2 separate regions of the Homo sapiens genome follow, and region 2 is linked to region 1. Evidence: fine-mapped expression QTL. Tissue or cell type: whole blood. Region 1 holds a variant in brackets; the other region holds the start of a gene. All regions are shown on one strand. Distances are between the middles of the regions.

Region 1 (8,106 bases):
GCGCCTGTAGTCCCAGCTACTTGGGAGGCTGAGGCAGGAGAATGGCGTGAACCCGGGAGGCGATGCTTGCAGTGAGCCAAGATCGTACCACTGCACTCCAGCCTGGGCGACAGAGCGAGACTCCGTCTCAAAAAGAAAAAAAAGAAAAAGAAACATTTCAAACATATAAAAAATAATAGTACAGTAAATCCCATGTACTCATACCCCCAATTTAAAAAATAAATTTTTTTTTGAGACCAGATCTCATTCTGTCACCCAGGATGGGGTGCAGTGGCATGATCCCACAGCTCACTGCAGCCTCGACCTCCTGGGCTTAGCTGATCCTCCCACCCCAGGCTCCCAAGTAGCTGGGAACACAGGCATGCACCACCATGCCCAGCTAATTTTTGTATTTTTTATAGAGATGAGATTTTTGCCATGTTGCCCAGGTTGGTCTCGAACTCTTGGACTCGAGGGATCTGCCCATCTCGACCTCTGAAAGTGCGGGGATTACAGGTGTGAGCCACTGCCCCCAACCCCAAATTAGCAATTATCAAGATTTTGACTATATTTTTTTCATCTTCCCCCTTTTTTCTTTGTAGAAGTTTTTTGTTTCTGTTTTGTTTGGGGTTGTTTGTTTGTTTGTTTGTTTGAGAGAAGGTCTTGCTCTTTCACTCAGGCTGGAATATAGTGGCTTGAACACAGCTCACTGCAGTCTCAACCTCCAGGGCTCAAGCAATCCTTCCACCTCAGCCTCCCCAGTAGCTTGGACTGACTACAGGTGTGCCACCACGCCTGGTTAATTTTTAAATTTTTTGTGGAGACAGTGTCCCACTATGTTGCTCAGGCTGGTCTCGAACTCCAGGGCTCAAGAGAATCTCCTGCCTCAGCCTTCCAAAGTGCTGGGATTACAGGCATGAGCCATTGCACTTGGCCTGTAGACGTATTTTAAGAAAATGCCAAACATCATGTCATTTCACCCCTTTATCCTCAATATAAATCTTTAAAAAGTAAGGGCATTTTTCTAACACCACCACAATGCCACTTTCACCCTTAATAACATCAAAAATAATGTTTTGTCTCATTTAAATCTAATTCTTGAATTCTTGATGTTCATTTGGGTAGAATAAAGTTTAAAATCATTTTGCTATTTGGTCACACACTGACTAACCAAGGATCATATAAATTTGTTTCACAACAGTTTATTGGTTCCTAGATCATCTCTCCTTTCCTAAAAGACTTATTTTGTGTCAGGGAATATTATATGTTAGCTCCCCTTTTTCCTTAGTGCCTTAGTCCATTTGTGCTGCTATAACAGAATACCTGAGACTGGGGAATTTATAACAAACAGATATTTATTGTTCACAGTTGTGGAGGCTGAGAAGTCTGAGATCAAGGTGCCAGCAGTTTAGGCATCTAGTGAGGGTCCGGTCTCTGCCTCCAAGATGGTACCTTGAACTCTGCATCCTCCAGAGGAGGGGGAACACTGTTCCTCACGTAGCAGAAGAGCAGAAGAGAGAGAGCCCACTCCTGCAAGCTCTTTTTTTAAAGCAGCATTAATCCACACACAAGGGTAGAGCCCTCATGACTGAAATGCCTCCCATTCAGCCCCACCTCTCAACACTGTTGCAATGAGGATTAAGGTTCCAGCACATAAATTTGAGGGGAACAAAAACATTCAAACCATAGTATTTGGTTATAGAATTTTTAGCTAGAAACACAGCCACAGGAAAAAAAAACTGTATTTCCCAACCTTCCTTGCTGCTGGATATGGCTTCTGAGTAAATTCTAGTCCATGAGATGTTAACTGAATTGTTGAGTTGAGTTTCTGGGAAGTGTTTGTAAGGGTAGACGGCATGTTTTCTTTGCCCTTTCTCCTTCCTGCTCACTAGAATAGAGAAACAGTAGCTGGACCTGAAGCATCTTGACCTATGAGGCTGTGTACCAAGAAGAATAGGTAAGACATTAAGAGAGAAGCACTCAATGAGGATGCTAAGGCATAAAAATAATACAATGCACTTTGGAGACTCAGGGGAAAGAGTGGAAGGGGGGTGAGAAATAAAAGACTACATGTTGGGTACAGTGTACACCGCTTGGGTGATGGGTGCACCAAAATCTCAGAAATCACCACTAAAGAACTTATCTATGTAACCAAACACCACCTGTTCCCCCAAAACCTATTGAAATAAAAAATGATTTTTAAAAATCATAGATGACACAAGAAATGAGAAAAAAAGAGGGAGAGAAAAACACTCAGATCCCTGATGATCCACGGAGTCACCATATCAGTTTGGAAGTAAACTTTTTTCTGCACTTCAAGCCAATGTTCTGTATTTTGGTTTCTGATTGCTTTCAAACCTGTAGCCAAACAAACCCTAACTTATACACATTGCTCTATACTTCTTTCCCCATCGCTCAATTATGGTAGGACTAGACACAGAGAAAACTGGATTTGCTCTGAGCTAAGGCCTCCTCATCTAACATAACTGTTAACTGAGATGTATTCCATTAAACTTAATGTTTTTTTGTTTTTGGGTTTTGTTTTAGAGACAAGGTCTTGCTCTATCACTCAGGCTGGAGTGCAGTGGGGCTATCACAGCTCACTGTACTCTGAAATTCCCGGGCTCAAGTGATCCTCCCACCTCAGCCTCCTGGGTAGCTGGGACTACAGGCGCACACCACCATATCACCCTAATTTAAAAAAAATTCTTTTTTTTTTGGTGGAGATGGGATCTCACTACATAGCCCAAGCTGGTCGCGAACTCCTGGCCTCAAATGATTCTCTTGTGATTTGCTGGGATTACAGACATAAGCCATAGCACCCAGCCAAACTTAATGTTTTAAAATGAAAAATGTTCAACTTTCAAAACTCCTTTCCCTTAGGTCTGTCCTTGCTATATAATCAACATCTCCTCTGCCTTCTTAATTGATTGGCTACTCAAATATAGCAGTTTCTTGGTTTTTAAAAGTAGTGTTCTGGCCAGGTGCTGTAGCTCACGCCTGTAATCCTAGCACTTTAGAAGGCCGAGGCTGATCACTTGAGCCCAGGAGTTCGAGATCAGCCTGGGCAACATGGCAAAACCCCGACTCTAAAAAAAATTACAAAAATTAGCCGGGCATGGTGGTATGTGCCTGTAGTCCCAGCTACTTGGGAGGCTAAGGTGGGAGGGTCACTTGAGCCTGGGGAGGTTGAGGCTACAGTGGGCTGTGATCGCGCCACTGCACTCCAGTCTGAGTGACAGGATGAGACCTTGTCTCAAAAAAAAAAAAAAGAGTAATGTTTTGTTCATATGGTTTGCAAAAAAGGATTTGGAGAAGGCTAGAAAAGATCTGAAATACTGAATGAGTAACAATCACTGAATGCCGGAAAAAGCCCAGCCTTGTTACCTTCTCTGATCTCTGAAAATACATCAGCAATTGCAGAGCTGTTGCTGGTGAGCTACAGTGAGCTGTCACCATTGATGTAGTCATTATTAGAAGATCACAGTATATGCACAGAAGTTCAAATATTGTTAACAGGTCTACATTTAAAAGGTTTCTTATGTAATTTTACAGCTGATAAAGCAACCCCTGATGACACAGTGAAATAGGATCAGGATATTAAAGCATTTAAACATAGGTTTTTAATTTATTAACCAAACATTAGGACATTTCCTCAGTCTCTTTTCATATTTAAAAAAAGGAAAAGAGAAAAATACTTGCGGTAACAAAGAAAAGTCTTAAGGTTTCTTTCAAAGATGCAGGCTGATTTCCAATATTCCAAACCTTTGAATTACGTAATGAAATGGGAGCTAATAAAAAAGAATGCACACCTGACAGATTGAATATTTTTTCTATGATTAATAATTCTCTATTAAAGCAATCTATTAACTTTTATTTTAAAGAGATGTGAGTGATCGAGTTATTAGATCAGCACCCTCAATTTTGGGCCAAATGAGAAACTCCTGTAGATTTTGTAATTCTAGACACCTCGTGAGCTGCTGTTCATTTGCTGATGAGATGTTTAAAGAATTGCAATGCACTAAGTTGTACATGTAAGACCAAAATGTTAATCAAAACACTGCGGCCAGATATGGTGGCTTACACCTGTAATCCCAGCACTTTGGGAGGCCGAGGCAGGTGGATCACTTGAGGTCAGGAGTTCGAGACCAGCCTGGCCAACATGATGAAACCCTGCCTCTACTAAAAGTAGAAAAATTAGCCTGGTGTGGTGGTGTGCACCTGTAATCCCAGCTACTCGGGAGGCTAAGGCATGAGAATTGCTTGAACGTGGGATGTGGAGGTTGCAGTGAGCCAAGATCAAGCCACTGCACTCCAACCTGGGTGATGGAGTGAGACTCTGTCTCAAAAATAATAATAATAATAAAATAAAAATAAAAAAAAAACTGCAAATCTTACACTTTCAAGACATTTATGGAAAATAATTCCTAATAAAGAAGGCATAGGGGATATGTAAAATTCTTCTTTATATCTTAGTCTTTGAGGAAATACTTTAAATTTCAACCACCATAGACAGTGAAAAATAACTCTCAGATGCCTATTCTTTGCACTCTGTTAGATGCTCCCTTTATGTGTTCATATATGTTTTATTGCAGACTGTATTTTCCCAAAGTGGCTGAAACAGTATCTGCTATTCCAAGTGCTCTTTTTATAATGTGACCTTAACATTTGTCTTATGGATAAGTGGAGTTTATGTCTTTTCCCCTTAAACTTGGGCAAACACTTGCGACTGTCTCAATAAAAGAGTACTGGAGAGTGATGTTACATAAATTTTGAGTCTAGATCACAAAAATGCCATGTTTCATCTTGCTGTCTTAGGACACTCAATACAGGAATTCAGCTGTATGCTGTAAGGAAGCCCGCACTTACCCATGCAGAGACCACATGATAGGTGTCCTGGTTAAAACCCAGCATGCTGCTGGGTGCAGTGGCTCACGCCTGTAATCCCAGCACTTTGGGAGGCCAAGGCGGGCAGATTACCTGACGGTAGGAG[T/C]TTGAGACCAGCCTGGCTAACATGGTGAAACCTTGTTTCTACTAAAAATACAAAATTAGCCGGGCATGATGGTGCAAGCCTGTAACCCCAACTATTCGGGAGGCTGAGGCAGGAGACTCACTTGAACCTGGGAGGTGGAGGTTGCAGTGAGCCGAGATTGTGCCATTGTACGCCAGCTTGGGCAATAAGAGCGAAATTCCATCTAAAAAAAAAAAGCCGGCATCATCTGCCAGATAAGTGAGTGAAGTCATATCCAGGTGATTCCAGCCCCCAATCGTTGCATTACCCACAGCCTTTGAGTCTTCCTGACTGAGGTTTCAGATATGGTGGAGTGAAGACAATCATCCATACCCACTGTACCCAATCTGAATTCCTAACCCAGAGAATCTGTGAGCATAATAAAATGGTCATTTTATGCCACTAAGTTTTCAGGTAATTTGTTACACAATAATGGTAACTGGGACATATATGTTACCTACAAGCCATATTAATGACAATACTCTCAATTTCTTATAAATTTCCCCTGGATAAAACCATACAATAAGCCTCATGTATTTTCAAAGTAGTCTTCAAATGTGAAAGAAGAATAATAGCAAATGACCCTAAAGGGAACCAAGATATGAAAAAGTTACAATTCATATATTAATAGAATCACATGCCTTTTCATTGGCCAGAATTAAGACCTTTTGCCTTTCAGAATTAGCCTTTTCCTCAAAATCCATGTCCTCAAACAAATTAGTCCCACTTAGTTTTTTCTTCAAATTGTTATCTTTCTAAGTAGTCTCTTTCTTGAGTTCTAGATCCTTGACTCTCAGTCTGCTGAGCCTTTTTTTTTTTTTTTTTTTTTGAGATGGAGTGTTGCTCTGTTGCCCAGGCTGGAGTGCAGTGGCATGATCTTGGCTCACTGAAGCCTCTGCCTCCCAGGTTCAAGAAATTTTCCCACCTCAGCCTCCTGAGGAGCTGGGATTACAGGGGCGCACCACCATATCTGGCTAATTTTTGTATTTTTAGTAGAGACAGGGTTTCACCGTGTTGGCCAGACTGGTTTTGAACCCCTGACCTCAGGTGATCCACCTGCCTCGGCCTCCCAAAGTGCTGGGATTACAGGCGTGAACCACCACACCCGGCCGAGCTTTTCTGCTTAGACATTCCACCATTCTCTCAAACTTAGTTGGTCTCAAACCAAACCCATGTCTTCTTTGAAAATCTGAATCTTCTGAGAGAGTAACAAAGCAAATGATGCAAAATGTTAAAACCTGGCGAATCTCCTAAAAGATAAACAGGAATGTTTCTTTGTAAGATTCTAGCAACTTTTCTGTAAGCTTCTAATTATATTTCAAAATAAGGAGCATGTTAAAACAGAAAAGAAAAGGGATAAGGACTGGAAACAAGAACTGAATTTACTACACAGCTCTCTAATTCTGGTAGTAATGTCTGTTGTTACTGGTGGTTAAATACTTCAGAGTAATCTTTCATTCCAGATTTCCTCAGCTCTTCTAATTAATCAATATTAATTTGTCTTTCTTTTTTGCTATCTGTAGTTAATATTTCTATTTCTCTCTTCCCAAAACCCAGCACCCCTTCTTATGCTAAAAGTGTCAAGATTTTCCTCTGGAGAGCCATTCTTCCCCAGTTTTAGATCTTACATAAGGGTGGGATTCAAGAATGAAAATGTAACCCAGGTATAGCATCTTGCAGATGGTCAACAAAGGAGGAGCAAATTCCTTTAATAAAGTTTAAGTAGTTAAGAAAAAGTCCTAACAGATCTTGCTGGTTTTGCTCTCTTTTACATTTTGCTTTAAAAAATGTGCTTATTAGGACTTTATATAATATGTATGTATGTGTATATATATATGTGTGTGTGTGTATACACACACACATAAACACAGAGACAGGGAGAGAGAGTTAGTGCGGGGTGAGTTTAGTATAGAAAAATTACATTTTCTGCAAAAAGAGTTGATTCTCTTTCTGTTTTTTTAGTTCTTGCCTTGGTCAAAATATAATTCCTCAAGTCAAAATATTATACTTAGGTAGGTAGGGCAATCTAAAATAAAATCCCAAGGATGAGAACCTTCATTCTTTCAAACTTTGTTGAACTGTTATATTGAAAGAATAACCTCCTGTTTTGGATTTTGGCTTCTTTTGGTCCTCTGCAGAATGACTAAGTAAATGAGCCCCAGAAGGCCCATGAAAGGCAGTCTCTTACTAACAGGGGCAGAACCACCCCATACTTCTTTTGCCATCTATTGACTTACCCACACTATAGCTCCAGGTCTTAAAACCTTCTATTCAAGAGAAAGGATATGGATATTTTTATAAAATCAGTTTGTGTGTGTGTTTTTAAGAAAAGAAACCTAGAGCTATCTGCATTACAAGCATGACTGAGAAGGGGATTTTGTTCAGAGGGAAGTAAATATTTTCACCAACATTCAGAGTCTAGTTGCTCCCAGAAGTCCTAATGTATATCTTTTTTTCCTTGCTGAGTCTTACCTACTTCACCTCCTTAAAATGCCAACCCATGAGCTGGGTGCATTGGCTCATGCCTGTAATCCCAGCACTTTGGGAGACCAAGGCAGGCAGATCACGAAGTCAGGAGTTCGAGGCCAGCCTGACCAACATGGTGAAACCCCGTCTCTACTAAAAATACAAAAATTAGCTGGGCGTGGTGGCACGTGCCTGTAATCCCAGCTACTCAGGAGGCTGAGGCAGGAGAATCACTTGAACCCGGGAGGCAGAGGTTGCAATGAGCCAAGATCGCACCATTGTACTCCAGTGCTCCAGCCTGGGCAAAAGAGAAAGACTTTGTCTCAAAAAAAAAAAAAAAAAAGCCAACCCATGGTTTATCAAATCTACAAAACTCAATGCAATGTGCATCACCCCCTTTCTTCTTCCTTTTTCTCATTAACTAGCATCATTGCCCTCTTTGGCAACTGCACAGTTACTAGGTATTGCCAGAAAGATTCTATAATAGACTATTGGCTCTTCTGCTCACTTTTTCCTCCTGCTAAGTTTTTTTTTTTTTTTTTTGAGTTGGAGTCTCGGTCTGTTGCCCAGGCTGGAGTGCAGTGGCATGATCTCGGCTCACTGCAGCCTCTGTCTCCCAGGTTCAAGCAATTCGCCCACCTCAGCCTCCC
Region 2 (8,098 bases), 78 kb after region 1:
TTCCTGACCTCGGGTGATCCACCCACCTCAGCCACCCAAAGTGCAGAGATTACAGGTGTGAGCCACCATGCCCAGCGGGGGTTTCTTTTTGGGGTGATGACAAAGTTCTAAAATTGTTTGTGGTAATGATTACTTAACTCCATGAATACATTTTAAAAACCACTAAATTGTACATTTTACATGGGTGTTTGTATGATATGTAAATTTATCTCAGCAGAGCTGTTAAAATGAAAAATGACTATTCTGATGGCTGTGTAGTGAATGGATTTGAGAGGACTCAAGATTGGAGGCAGTAGAACCACTTAGGAAATGCAACAATATAGGTGAAAGATGATGAGGGTCTGAATTAAGACACAAGCAGCAGTGACAGAAAGGAAAGATGGATTCAAGAGATATTTGGAAGGTAAGACCAATAGCATTCAGTGATTGACTAGATAAAGGAGTGATGGGAAAAGGGATGAATCCTGAGCTTCTGGTTTGGGCAACAGGATGAGGGACTGTTTTACTATCTATATTTCTACCCATATGAGATAGCAAGTATAAAAAGGGCTGATTTGGGGTAAAAAACTTTTATATCAGATATGTTGAGTTTGAGGTGCCTATAGGACATCAAGATGCAAATGTCTAGTAGATAGCTGTCTTGAGCCACATCAAAGTTAAGAAGAGAAAACTGGGACTGCAGATTTGAGTCATGAGTAAACAGGCTAGTTAAAACAGGCTAGTTGGATGTGATTGCTTGGGGCAAGCATACTAAGTAAGCAAGAAGTGGGCCAAGGATGAAACTCTGGGGAACACTTATATTTTAGGAGCAGGCTAAGAATAAAGATCCAGTGAAGTTGATGGGAAAAGAACAGTCTAATAAGAGAGCTGGAAAACTAGAAGAGAGTAGTTATTACAGCTAAGGGAACAGAGAGTTTCACAAAAAAGGGAGTTTACAGTGATGCAATTGTCAATAGCCAGTTTATGAACTGTTTGCCAGTCCACAAGAAGACTAAAGAGCTTGGACCACAATGTAAATTAACTGCTTCCTTCATTAACAAAATCAAGAAAAAAAAAGAACAGCTGAACAAAACAGTGTATCCTGTGACATAAATGATTGAGGCAGCGCATAACAATACACAACAGAGTGACCAGCAGATATACAGCATTCACTCTTATTTTTGGTGAACAAATGAGACCTTAAAACCTACTGGACTTTTTATAAGCTTGGGAAACTGAAAACAAACAAGGAAAAAAAGAACCTACTGGACTTTAATAAACCCAACATGCCTAATTTTACAATTAGAATTTTCTTTCTTTCTTTTTAAATATAGATGGGGTCTCACTTTGTTGCCTATGCTGGTCTTGAATTCCTGGCCTCTCAAAGTGCTGGAATTATAGGTATGAGCCACCATACCTGGCCCTTAAAATTTTCATGGTGGAACTCTTTTGCACTCTTTGATCAAACTCCTTTGTTTCTTCCACTTCTATTAAAAAAAAAAAAAAACTTTACTGGAGTATGACATATAAAAAGCTGTACATATTTAATGTATACAACCTGAGTTTGGTGACAAGTATATCCCTGTGAAACCATCATCACAATCTACACTATAAACATATCCATCACCTCCAAAAGTTTCCTCCTACCCTAATAAATTTTTCTATTTATCTTCATTTAATATAGTTCCTTTATCCTTAGTTAATAAAGAATGCTAGAGGTCACCCCCTCTCCCCATAAAGTGTTAACTATCTAGAAAGGTCTGCTAATCAAAAACATTTCATTCTTCTCCTCTATCCTGGGAAAAGTATAAAACAGATCAAAGAGGCCAACAATATTTGGTACATTTTACATAACACTTTACACAGATGAGAAGAATGTAGGTTCTAAGCCTATAACTGCTTTACTGAATTTCTCATAGCGGACTTGCAAAAGTTATTCTCTGTGGATTTCTTTTTTCTTGTAAGAAAGCTGATACATTGAAATTTATAAAGCGAAATGTCAAAAGTTCCAGTAAAAAATTATGATTTCTCAGGTATATTTGTCTCTAAATATAAACAGCAAATAAGCAAGCACCTGAATTCCATCTAATCTCTTCATTCTTGTAAAAATAGTAACAGCTGACCCCCTAAGTATGCAGAGAAAGGAAATGTCTGTGTTTGGTGTCAAAAGTTATTGAGCCAACCAAATACAAGAAACCTCTCCCTCCCACAGTTGCAACCACACAAACACAAACTGGTGCAGTGGAAAAAAAATCACTGGGTTAATCAGGTGTTCCAGATCCTAGTTCTGGTACAACATTTAACTAGCTGTGTAACTCTTGGCAAATTTGTTTCCTCATTTATAAAATGAGGAGATGGGGCTGGATGATTACCAAAGAGCTTTCAAGGTGTATCTGTGTTATTAAAATTTCATGGGGGAGTTATTAAGAAAAAATGTTTAATAAGACTCCTTAGGAAGGTAACAGTGAAAAAAAAGTTGAGAATCACTGGTCTAGAAGTGAGAGTATATAGCAGTATCTCATCACCTCAACTCGTTCTAAAAACAAATAAAAGCTTAGTTATTTTCACAAGTTTCTATGTAGGGGCAATCAACATTTTATTGAGCACCTCCTCTCTGTAGTGGACACAGTGATAGATGCCTACGTTGTTTCAAATCCTTTATCTTCACTATTTCACTTAATCCTCACAATTAAGTCAATCATCCTTAATTTACAGATTAGAAGACTGAGGGTCAGATATTACAAATATTTTGTGCAAGGTCTTAAGGCTAAAAGTGACTGCTCGAATAACTAGAATCCAGGTTTGACTCCAAAGCTGATTCTTTCTACTTCACTCTTTTGCTTTTCATTACTATGATATTCACCAAAGTATTACAACTGGTAGACCTGTAATTATGTAAAACACTAAACTTCAACGAGTTTAGTCATCAAAAAGACACTAGATTATTAGGTAATTTTTTTAAAGATCTATCTTAAGTAAACGGGGAGGCTTCTTTGTACAGAAAAGTAGAGTTCAGAAGCCGTGATCCCTGGGATCCGAAAAGACAAAAAACCAGAATCAGCTGAAGGAAGTACTGAGGAATTTTGACATTAGTCTTCGCATATTATGGATTTGCATTCTGGCCGACAAAGATTCTCTAGGCCACCGGTCTCCTCGCTGTTGCAGAATAAACGCTGAGGACCCGCTGCGTCAGCGAGCTGCTCAGCAGAGAAAGGCGAGACCACCAGGGCTTTAGGCCTAGAGAAGCGGAGGCTGTCCTAGGGATCTCAGAGACACCATCACTTTCACTTCCAGCAGCCTCTGGGAAGGCGGTCCCTGTGGGCCTAATCCCTCCCCGGGTCTGTTTACTCACTTTTTTGATATTGGATTTGGAGGCAGGATGAAAGTCTTTCTTGCACATGAAGTTGGCGAAGGATTTCCCCATCTTGGAACTGGAACTAGGGAAAGCAGGGGCTAGATCTGTTAGCAACGTAAACAAACTCAGCCGCCTAACCGGAACTGCGTTTCCAGCAGCAAGGGGGAACTTCCGAGATCAAAGGTGACAGCTTCCGGCAACTGATGCCTCCACTGGCCACTCCTCCCTCCGTCCACCTGTCACTTCGGGTAGCTGGGAGGCCAGGTGAGGGGCGCGCACGGGGGAGGGGCGTGCATAGTTGAGACAGAAACCCGGAAGACCCAACTGTGGCGCGGCACTGCTTGACCGAGGGGCTCCGGAGCCCAGCTGCACCGGCTGCGGTTTGAGCGCCCAGGGCCGGGGTGCGGGGTGGACCGCGGCGGCCCTTCGACCAAAGGTGCTTGAAGCTCGAGCCCATTACTTTCTGTGGACTCTGACTCGAGCTGCAAAAGCTTTTCTGCACTGTTTTTCTCATCTATGTTATGAAGATAATAATTCCGGCCCTAACCGTAGTATGCTTGCGAGAATCCAACAATATGATGTTTCTGAAAGCGCCGGCTGAACTAAGAGCGCGTGAAATAGAATGACAGACAGCTCTGCAAGAACGGAGGCCCTGTCTATTTTGTACCCAGCTGTACGGTACTGGCGCCGAAAGACGTTCAATAAATACTTATTGAATGACGAATACGCGTTAGGAGTTGGTAAAATCTCTCAAGGCTTCACCTCCTCAGTGGGCTAGGTGCAATTCTAACCAGGGGGCAAGTTTCCTTAGCTTTCCCTACGACCCCAGTTAGGCAGCTCAGGTTACTATTGCAGCTTGATGGCCCTTGGGACTCCAGGTTTTTGAGTGGACGTGGCTGCTACTGCAGCAGGTGATCCACCAACCAAGTTCTCTATCAGGGTAATGTTAAGAATAAACCTTGGCCGGGCGCGGTAGCTCACGCCTGTAATCCCAGCACTTTGGGAGGCCAAGGTGGGTGGATCACCTGAGGTCAGGAGTTCAAGACCAGCCTGGCCAACATGGTGAAACCCCGTCTCTACTAAAAACACGAAAAATTAGCCGGGTGTGGTGGCACGCGCCTGTAATCCCAGCTACTCGGGAGGTTGAGGCAGGAGAATCACTTGAACGCGGGAGGCGGAGGTTGCAGTGAGCCAAGACTGCTCCATTGCACTCCAGCCCGGGCAACAAGAGTTAAACTCCATCAAAAAAAAAAAACAAAAAACGAATAAGCCTTTATGAGAAATTTTCTCTCCTACCAAATAATAACAATAACAGCTTTCATGTGAGTATCTACTATGTTCTATGCACTGTGCAAAACACTTTACGTGTTGCCTTATTAAGTTCTCATAACAGCCCATCAAATAGTGTCTTATTTTTCTGATGAGGCAGAAGGCATAGGTAAGAGAGAGATTAAATAGTCTGCCAAAGTTATATAGTGATAGAACTAACTATAAAACACAAATAGAAGGAGATCCAGGACATAAGAGTTGAAATACAGAAAGAAAATAACAGAAGCCATCAAGACATCAGACTTCTCGTCACTGAGGAGAAGAGGAAAACCCTTAAGAGTTTCAGTCTGAAGTTTTTATTTAGTCATTTTCTTTTCTTTTTAAGGAAACATTTATTATATTTAAATTTTGTTTTTAAGTTGCTAGCATCTGCCTGTGTAAAGCCATTTTAAGGTTTTGCCATTATTAAAGGAAAGAAGGAAACTCTGTAAAACAATGTGTCTGTTCTGGCAGCAAAATAAGGACCTTTAGGTGTTCTATTATAAGTGAAGATCTAAGATTTTCCAAGTTACAACTGAAGAGGTAATCTAGATATTAAAGTATATAATTGCGATTTATAAATTAAATATGTGAACTTTCTCCTAGAAATATCAGCAATTTGGAATTATATTGACATATTTTTGTCTGAATCAATGAGTCTGTTTCAAAATTTCAGTCTCATCAGAATTATAATGTGTATTATTTCCCAGCTCAAATAAGACCCCTTCTTCCTTCCTTTGAGGAAGTACTGGGCACGTAAGATTTTTTTCCATAAGACAAGTTCCAGCAAAGAGAATATAAAGATTAGTAAGACATACTCCCAGCCCTCAAGGATCTCATTGTCCAGTAAAGGGATTTATATATACACGAATGTAATGGAATCTAGCCTTTACAACAATAGAGCTAGGTACACGGATTCCCAAATATGGAAATGGTGAAACGAAATTCAGGGAAGACTTTAGGAGAGAAAGGTCTTAGAGAATAAATGTGAACTATACAGTAGAAGAAGGTAGTTCTCATTGCCATTTTCTTACTGAGTTGTAGTACCAGATTGAGTCCCAAGTCATATTCTTACTGATTTTTAGGCTGTAGTATACAAAATTTAAAACTTTAATGAACAGCCAAGCACGGTCACTCATGCCTGTAATCCCAGGGCTTTGGGAGGCAGAAGGGGGAGGATCTCCTGAGCCCAGGAGTTCCAGGCTGCAGTAAGCCCTGATCATACAACTGCACTCCAGCCTGGGTGAAAGAGCTAGACCTTGTCTCCAAAAAATAAAAATAAAAAAATCAAAGCTTTAATGAACATCCTTAATTAGATATGGCAATAATATCCTTTGGTCATTGAGTAAAACTCTTTATTTTTATATACTTAAAAGTGTTCTTTTTATTTTAAAACATCTGTATAATTTTTAGTTAAAAAAAATGGAACCTTTTTCCTGTGACACTTTCGTGGCATTACCTCCAGCAACAGTCGATAACAGGATTATTTTTGGAAAAAATTCAGATAGACTCTATGATGAAGTACAAGAGGTGGTTTATTTTCCTGCTGTAGTTCATGATAACCTGGGAGAACGTCTTAAGGTAGGTGAAATAAATGTTTTGTTAGCAATATGCCTTTTAAAAATATCATAAAGTTATTTCTATACATAGCAATTTGGAAGAAACTGTAGAAGTTAAAATTGAGGAGTTTACATTTGAAAAATAAATGAGTCAGAAATAAACTGTGATCTTTTATTTCAGTGATTCGGAGGACGTTGAAATAACAATAATAAAATTATCCATTGTTTGAATAAATATTTGAATGCTTTCCATATGCAAGCATGTTAGATAGGGCAAGAGATTTAAAGTCAGCTGTCAAGACTCTGTTCCAGGAGCTTAGAGTCTAGTATAGCAATAAGATGTGTATGCATTATACCCCATTATAAAATAGGATGGTTTAAATGCTAAATTTAAGTAACAGTAGCATGCTGTGGCAGCGGAAGAGAATGAACATTTAATTCAGCTTGGAGTTAGCTGGAATTTGATGGACAAAAAGGATTCTGATTCTGAATTGGCTTAGGTTCTACTTGATGTAGAATAGGAAAGTCATCCCAGACTTTAGGAATGACAGTTTTATGACACATCAAAAAAGGTTTATTAGGCCCTATGTTAACACTATCAATATACATTTTATGCAGTCACTTGGTAGTATACACATTAATTAAAGGATCCTTTAAAAACTTATTTTAAAAACCCATTTAATGTGGAACTTAAAATGAGAGCTTCAAATTATGCTATTGTTGCTAATTCATACTTTTTAGATTTTATTTTATTGATATTCTAATATTAAAACATATTAAATATTAGACTTTTTTCTGTATCCTATGCCATATTTTTTTCTTTTGCTAAGACCACTTATTCATCTGTGATACCACTTCCACTTTATTTCTTCATATTTAAATATAGCCTGTCCTGTAAACCAGTGGTTCTCATTCTTTTCATTGCTGTGGGCATACCTAATGGTTGACTTCAAAATGTGATGTGAGATTCCTATGACAAAACTCTTGTATTCGAAGGCTACCATGTGAGTAATTATATCACTAATCAAGAAACACTGGATATTGAGGTTGAGAACTACTTCCTTAAGCTTCAACTCACACATCTACAAAAATGTTTCAAGATATTACAGCTAGAGACCATCTTTCTCCTGAGCTCCAATAGCACCTTGTCTTCACTTCATGACCCTAATACTTTATACTTTATTTTATCTTAATGTAGAAGTTTTAGTTTCTCAAAAGTGAGATCTTTATCTGATTCATCTTTGTAACTAACATATCTCTTGGCAGAATGTTTTATAATAGGAAATGCTCAGCAAATATTTGAATGAATAAATATTTTAGGGTTATTCTGAATATGTTTTAAGGGTAATGCCTTTATTATTGAAAATTTCAATTTACTTATATTTCCTTTACCTCTTTCATAACAGTTTTGTCTTCTGACTGATTTTTTTAAATTCTGGATTTTGATAACTTTTCTGGTTTTGTGGTTCTTGCTATGACTTTTTTTTTTTTTTTTTTACAGTGTACATATATAGAAATTGATCAAGTTCCTGAAACATATGCTGTTGTCCTGAGTCGCCCAGCGTGGTTGTGGGGGGCAGAAATGGGAGCCAATGAGCATGGAGTTTGCATTGGGAATGAAGCTGTATGGGGAAGAGAAGAAGTTTGTGATGAAGAAGCACTATTAGGAATGGACCTTGTCAGGTTATTTTTTGTTACATTTTATACTACAGACCTTGTCTAAATTTATAATTTTTGTGTAACTCTTACTTGTTTTATTTTCCTATTTTTGAGGGGGCTTTGATACTTTGCAGTTTGTGTCAAAATGGTTTAAAGTACCGGCATGCAATTTCATGACTCTCAGTTTTGTTTGGTTTTTTAAAATTAATTAATTTTTATTTTTTTGAGATGAGATCTC

Evidence for each region. PIP is the estimated chance that this variant, and not a neighbour inherited with it, causes the effect.
Region 2: it holds the start of CIRSR, and the variant in region 1 is fine-mapped to the expression of CIRSR in whole blood (TOPMed, PIP 0.98).

Annotation. Positions count from the first base shown.
Region 1 is chr2:174,313,825-174,321,930 of GRCh38, forward strand. No RefSeq gene overlaps it. Among named protein-coding and RNA genes, the nearest start is that of LINC01305, 8.1 kb to the right of the region's middle. The variant T/C (reference allele first, on the strand shown) is at 4,973.
Region 2 is chr2:174,392,220-174,400,317 of GRCh38, forward strand. CIRSR (corepressor of RBPJ and splicing regulator) reads right to left here and starts at 3,493. Exons shown (of 10, transcript NM_004882.4): 1 at 3,332-3,493. The coding sequence starts at 3,403. It overlaps SCRN3 (secernin 3), which reads left to right and starts at 3,511. Exons shown (of 8, transcript NM_024583.5): 1 at 3,511-3,598; 2 at 6,056-6,223; 3 at 7,703-7,884. The coding sequence starts at 6,065. RefSeq lists a silencer at 1-5 and enhancers at 3,392-3,441, 3,939-4,439.